Linked DNA regions of Homo sapiens. The protein of the gene in region 2 purifies or fractionates together with the protein of the main gene of each other region. This does not show direct contact. Each region holds a gene or a part of one and is shown on either strand. Other genes may lie near its edges.

The links. The genes of interacting proteins can lie anywhere in the genome.
Region 1: the proteins of PLEKHM1 (region 2) and SEH1L purify together in Homo sapiens (affinity purification with mass spectrometry; one study listed by BioGRID and IntAct). This does not show direct contact.

What each region holds. Positions count from the first base shown.
Region 1 is NC_000018.10:12,979,011-12,982,510, reverse strand, and holds part of SEH1L (nucleoporin SEH1), read right to left. Parts: intron 1-3,500. UniProt on the Homo sapiens protein: Component of the Nup107-160 subcomplex of the nuclear pore complex (NPC). The Nup107-160 subcomplex is required for the assembly of a functional NPC.
Region 2 is NC_000017.11:45,435,400-45,438,721, forward strand, and holds the end of PLEKHM1 (pleckstrin homology domain-containing family M member 1), read right to left. Parts: intron 2,571-3,322; coding exon 2,459-2,570; 3' UTR 501-2,458; downstream 1-500. UniProt on the Homo sapiens protein: Acts as a multivalent adapter protein that regulates Rab7-dependent and HOPS complex-dependent fusion events in the endolysosomal system and couples autophagic and the endocytic trafficking pathways.

The DNA of each region.
Region 1 (3,500 bases), on a different chromosome or scaffold from region 2:
TAAAAAACATTTTCTGAGGCATTCCAAACAAAGTTTTAAAACATATATATATACACACACATATATATATACACACGTAAAATTCTAAATTAATACAAGTGGTCTCGCCACCACATCACTTTATAATAATGTGCACATCTGCCCAAACCCCACACCTTGGCCCTTGAGCTGGGCCAATGTCATTTTCATTTAACTCGCCAAGACCTGGAGTGATCCCAGCACATAAATGATACTCAGTGACTGTTTCATGGAAGAAAGAAACAACAAAACAGGATGATTTTATTCTCCCACACAAGGCAGAAGAATAAAATAGATGACAATAATTAATTTAAAAAGGCAGGGCAAGGCCAGGTGCAGTTGCTCACACCTGTAATCGCAGCACTTTGGGAGGCCAAGGTGGACAGATCACTTGAGGCCAGGAGTTCAAGACCAGCCTGGCCAACATGGCGAAACCCCATCCCTACTAAAAATACAAAATAAAAAATTAGCCAGGCATGGTGGCGGGCGCCTGTAGTCCCAGCTACTCAGGAGGCTGAGGCATGAGAATTGCTTGAACCTGGGAGGTGGAGGTTGCAGTGAGCCAAGATCAAGCCACTGCCCTCCAGCCTGGGCAACGGAGTGAGACCTTGCCTCAAAAAAAAAAAAAAAAAAAAAAAAAAATGGGCAGGGCAGCAAGTAGGAAAGAATGAAAGAATGGAAAGAAAAGAACTGAAATTCACAATTCAAAATTAAAGTTAAATATGTTATTCACAAGACTGTCTCAATACTAATTTAGTTTTCCCTAAATAGACTGCCACTTGTCATTAAATATTTATAGATTATCAGTTATATTTGGAGAATTGTTAGTTTCAGCCTAAATAAAGCACAGTTAAGAGAATATAAATCTGCTCTTGACTCAATTCCCCTTTCCAAAAAGACATATATTTATATATAAAATGTTCATTAAATAATCCATTCTTCAAAAATGACATTAATTTAAAAGTAACTGTAGGTGTTGGCCGGGCTGGTCTCCAGCTCCTAACCGCGAGTGATCCGCCAGCCTCGGCCTCCCGAGGTGCCGGGATGGCAGACGGAGTTGCATTCACTCAGTGCTCAATGGTGCCCAGGCTGGAGTGCAGTGGCGTGATCTCGGCTCGCTACAACCTCCACCTCCCAGCTGCCTGCCTTGGCCCCCCAAAGTGCCGAGATTGCAGCCTCTGCCCGGCCGCCACCCCGTCTGGGAAGTGAGGAGCGTCTCTGCCTGGCCACCCATCGTCTGGGATGTGAGGAGCCTCTCTGCCTGGCTGCCCAGTCTGGAAAGTGAGGAGCGTCTCTGCCCGGCCGCCATCCCATCTAGGAAGTGAGGAGCGTCTCTGCCCGGCCGCCCATCATCTGAGATGTGGGGAGCATCTCTGCCCGGCCGCCCTGTCTGAGAAGTGAGGAGACCCTCTGCCTGGCAACCGCCCCGTCTGAGAAGTGAGAAGCCCCTCCGCCCGGCAGCCACACCGTCTGAGAAGTGAGGAGCCCCTCCGCCCGGCAGCCACCCCGTCTGGGAAGTGAGGAGCATCTCCGCCCGGCAGCCACCCCGTCCGGGAGGGAGGTGGGGGTCAGCCCCCCGCCCGGCCAGCCGCCCCGTCCGGAAGGGAGGTGGGGGGGGTCAGCCCCCCGCCCGGCCAGCCGCCCCGTCCGGAAGGGAAGTGGGGGGGTCAGCCCCCCGCCCGGCCAGCCGCCCCGTCCGGGAGGTGAGGGGCGCCTCTGCCCGGCCGCCCCTACTGGGAAGTGAGGAGCCCCTCTGCCCGGCCAGCCGCCCCGTCCGGGAGGGAAGTGGGGGGTGTCAGCCCCCCGCCCTGCCAGCCACCCTGTCTGGGAGGTGAGGGGCGCCTCTGCCCGGCCGCCCCTACTGGGAAGAGAGGAGCCCCTCTGCCCGGCCAGCTGCCCCGTCCGGGAGGGAGGTGGGGGGGTCAGCCCCCCGCCCGGCCAGCCGCCCCGTCCGGGAGGGAGGTGGGGGGGTCAGCCCCCCGCCCGGCCAGCCGCCCCGTCCGGGAGGGAGGTTGGGGGATCAGCCCCCCGCCCGGCCAGCCGCCCCGTCCGGGAGGGAGGTTGGGGGGTCAGCCCCCCGCCCGGCCAGCCGCCCCGTCCGGGAGGGAGGTGGGGGGGTCAGCCCCCCGCCCTGCCAGCCGCCCTGTCCGGGAGGTGAGGGGCGCCTCTGCCCGGCCGCCCCTACTGGGAAGTGAGGAGCCCCTCTGCCCGGCCAGCCGCCCCGACCGGGAGGGAGGTGGGGGGGCCAGCCGCCCCGTCCGGGAGGGAGGTGGGGGGGTCAGCCCCCCGCCCGGCCAGCCGCCCCATCCGGGAGGTGAGGGGTGCCTCTGCCCGGCCGCCCCTACTGGGAAGTGAGGAGCCCCTCTGCCCGGACAGCCGCCCTGTCCGGGAGGGAGGTGGGGGGGGGTCAGCCCCCCGCCCGGCCAGCCGCCCCGTCCAGGAGGGAGGTGGGGGGGTCAGCCGCCCGTCCGGGAGGGAGGTGGGGGGGTCAGCCCCGCGCCCGGCCAGCCGCCCCGTCCGGGAGGTGAGGGGCACCTCTGCCCGGCCGCCCCTACTGGGAAGTGAGGAGCCCCTCTGCCCGGCCAGCCGCCCCGTCCGCGAAGGAGGTGGGGGGGTCAGCCCCCCGCCCGGCCAGCCGCCCCATTCGGGAGGTGAGGGGTGCCTCTGCCCGGCCGCCCCTACTGGGAAGTGAGGAGCCCCTCTGCCCGGACAGCCGCCCCGTCCGGGAGGGAGGTGGGGGGGTCAGCCCCCCGCCCGGCCAGCCGCCCCGTCCGGGAGGGAGGTGGGGGGGTCAGCCCCCCGCCCAGCCAGCCACCCCGTCCGGGAGGTGAGGGGCGCCTCTGCCCGGCCGCCCCTACTGGGAAGTGAGGAGCCCCTCTGCCCAGCCACCACCCCGTCTGGGAGGTGTACTCAACAGCTCATTGAGAACAGGCCATGATGACAATGGTGGTTTTGTGGAATAGAAAGCGGGGAAAGGTGGGGAAAAGATTGAGAAATCGGATGGTTGCCGTGTCTGTGTAGAAAGAAGTAGACATGGGAGACTTTTCATTTTGTTCTATACTAAGAAAAATTCTTCTGCCTTGGGATCCTGTTGATCTGTGACCTTACCCCCAACCCTGTGCTCTCTGAAACATGTGCTGTGTCCACTCAGGGTTGAATGGATTAAGGGTGGTGCAAGATGTGCTTTGTTAAACAGATGCTTGAAGGCAGCATGCTCGTTAAGAGTCATCGCCACTCCCTAATCTCAAGTACCCAGGGACACAAACACTGCAGAAGGCCGCAGGGTCCTCTGCCTAGGAAAACCAGAGACCTTTGTTCACTTGTTTATCTGCTGACCTTCCCTCCACTATTGTCCTATGACCCTGCCAAATCCCCCTCTGGGAGAAACACCCAAGAATGATCAATAAAAAAAAAAAGAAAGAAAAAAAAGTAACTGTAAAAGACCATTTTTAAAAAACATTTCAAAGTTTACATTTTTAAGT
Region 2 (3,322 bases):
AGGTCAGCAGCCAAGTAAAAGTCATTTTGAGCCCTAAAACCATGAGCCCTGAATCGGGGGATCCACTTAAATAACCCTTCTTTCCTGAGCCCCATCTCTCCTTTATTTCTCCTCTGAGAAATGTCCCCTGTATCCTGAGGTTTCACATGATCCAGTGTCAAGGGTCTGTGTTTTGACATTTAAGTCACAGGAAAAGAAGCCACCGGCGTGGGATCAGCTTGAGTTGTTATACAAGTGTGGGTACACCTCCCCAGAGACCCTGAGATCCTACCCCAGGAAGAGCCTGACTGCTGGGCTTGGCAAGGTGGTTTTCTTACTCTCTTCTCCCTGCCCACTCCTGGCATGCAAGCCCTCTGCCTACAAGTGTTTGCCACGGACCTCCCAAGCCTTCCCCCGTGCCAGGGACTAACATGAGGGTAGGGGACCCTGACAGATGGTAACAGATGGCTGGTGGTCTCCCCCCTGGCCGTGGCAGTGTTAGAATTCAGAAGCCAGACCAGTGATGAGAAAGATCAGGTCTTTACTGCAAAATCATTCAAAACTCACACGGCAGCAATTCCTTCAATACATTGCAAAGACTCCTCAGGGCCAGAGCCCTGCTCACTAGGAACAGTGTATTGCATAAAATAACATTTTAAAAATAGTGTGGGCACTACCTTTCTGAGGGAGGGGAGGCGGGAAGAGTCAATGCATCTGAAAGCACTGGCAGCTTCTGGGGAACGGGCCCCCCAGGGCCTCAAACCTGCTGCCTCCGAGGGCACCTTCGGGGAGAATCCTCACAGGCCCAAGCCCTCCCCAGGCCAGGCTCCTGCCCACTCAGGGATGGGGCAATGAGGGCTCTGACTAGGCTGGGCTTGTGGTGGAGCGTTAATGTGGGCCATGGCGGTGCATAACCCAGCTCCTGGCTTAGGAGGCATTGGCGTCTGGGCACAGGTGTGTGCCATGACCGGGAGAAGCTGTGCGCAGCCTCCACCTGCCTGCCACCGTTGCCTCTGTTCTGCTGCACAGGCATCCAGCTCCAAGGCTGGGTGGGTGACTCAGCAGCTAATCGCCCCCAGGGAAGGGTGGGGGTGGGCTCATCTCTGACAGTGACATGCGGCTCTCCACCTGAGGCCTGACTCCAAGCTGAGCGCAGGTAAGACAGCTAGGACTGAGGGCCTGCTAGGTCCAGGAGAGGTGGGGGAAGGCGACAGAGAGACCAGCAAACCCACATTTCCCCGAAGCCTGGAGGGTCTGACCATCACTTTGAAAACAATTCCAGACTCCCACCCCAGCCCCAAGGCCCCTTCAAAGGCAGTCCTGCTCCGGGGAACTTCTTCAGTCTCCAGTGTCCCGGCTGGGCAAGTTCAGTGATGCTTTGGGAATTCATGGCTTTGTGAGGTGGTGGCTGCATCCACAGGGCAGTTCCCCCGCACGCCCTGCACAGCTTAGGACCAGGTCACTTCTCCACAGTGCAGGGCGTGGCTGCCTGCCCTCTCTGGGGTCCTGCCTATCTGTGCCCTGGCAGGGGTCAGTCAGGCAGAGAGTGTGACCCCGGGCACCCACCAAGGTGGGCCTGGAGCATCTGCAGCAGCGCCCCTGTCTGTAGAGGGGTGAGGAGCGCACGGGGATCGGGGGTGGGCAAGACGGCGACCCTCCATAAACCGAGGAGGGCTCAAAGTGCTGACAGTGCTGGTTTCCAGTCATTTCTCCTTCTCCTAATGGGGCCAAGGCCCCAGGCTAGAGAAGAGCTAGGGGCTCTGACGCTGAGAAAGCGGTGGGCTCAGCAGGCGAGACGCACTGGGGTGGGGAGTAAAGAGGACACAGAGGAACCGGGGTCGCCAGGACTGGCCCTGCCCTGCTGAGGGGCGGTTTGGCACTGGCAGTGAGGGCCAAGGAAAGGCACTGGGTGGGCCCATAGACCCTGTCCCAGCAGTGGCCTGCCCACCAGCCACCCGCTACCTCTAAGCCAGGCCTGAGTGGCTCCTGTGCATCCGCTGGGGGTGAGAATGTCTGGATTTCATGGGTGACTCACGTAGGGTCAAGAATAAAAAAATACTTTCTGTTGAAATATGAATGGGAAAAACCCACCTTAAAAAACTAGACCTTTTAATCAGGAATGTGGAATTGAAAATGCTCCCCAAGTCCCCTTTCCACAGTGTTTGGGCAGCCCTAACGGAGGCGCCGGGACGCTGGTGAGCCAGGGCCTGGTGAGTAAACGGCCCTGCCTGCCCCAGACAGGGAGCATCTGGTGGTGGCCACGCCTCCTGCAGCAGAGGGGTGGGGGGAGGGCCAGGGGACACCACGGGGACTTCCTGGGCTTTCTCTGGGAGGCCGGTGCTCTGGCCACATCTGAGGGTCTTCCTGACAAGGGGACACAGCTGTGACACGGTGAGTATCCTGGGCTGATGGCAAACCCAGCCGGGATGGCTGAGCCACACTCACCCCCGGCTTTCAGAGCGGGGTCAGCAGATGGGCATCAGGCGAAAATGTTCTGTTCCTGGTACTTGCGCCGGCGGGCACAGCGGGGGCAGCCCTTCTTCACCACAGCCTGGCAGCTCTGGTGGAAGACGGTCTTGCACTCGGCACACCTGGGGAGAGAGCAGTAGGCCTGCTGGTGCCGGCTGGGCTGGAGGTTGCCCTGTGGCCACGCTGGCCAGCCCTTTTGACCAGAACCCACGATACGGCTGTGATGTACTGTGTAACCCATGCACGCACACCGTGCCTCTCCGTTCTGGAACAGGAGAGTCTTGAAACAGTGCTTACCCATACGTCACACAATGCACACTGATATTCTCTGTCCTATTGCATTTTTTATAAATGCTGCTTGAGATTCATTAAAGATCTCTTGCCTATATTTAAAAAATATTTACGGCCAGGCGCAGTGGCTCACGCCTTTAATCCCAGCACTTTGGGAGGCCGAGGTGGGCGGGTCACAAGGTCAGGAGATCGAGACCATCCTGGCTAACACAGTGAAACCCTGTCTCTACTAAAAATACAAAAATTAGCCGGGCGTGGCGGTGTGTGCCTGTAGCCCCAGCTGCTGGGGAGGCTGAGGCAGGAGAATGGCATGAACCCGGGAGGCAGAGCTTGCAGTGAGCCGAGACTGCACCATTGCACTCCAGCCTGGGCGACAGAGCAAGACTCCATCTCAAAAAGAAAAAAAAAATTTTTTTTACTTACTTTATTTATTTATTTTTCAGAGTCTTGCTCTGTTGCCCAGGCTGGAGTGCAGTGGCACGATCTCGGCTCACTGCAACCTCTGCCTCCCGAATTCAAGTGATTCCCCTGCCTCAGCCTCCCAAGTAGCTGGGATTACAGGTGCCCACCACCACACCTGGCT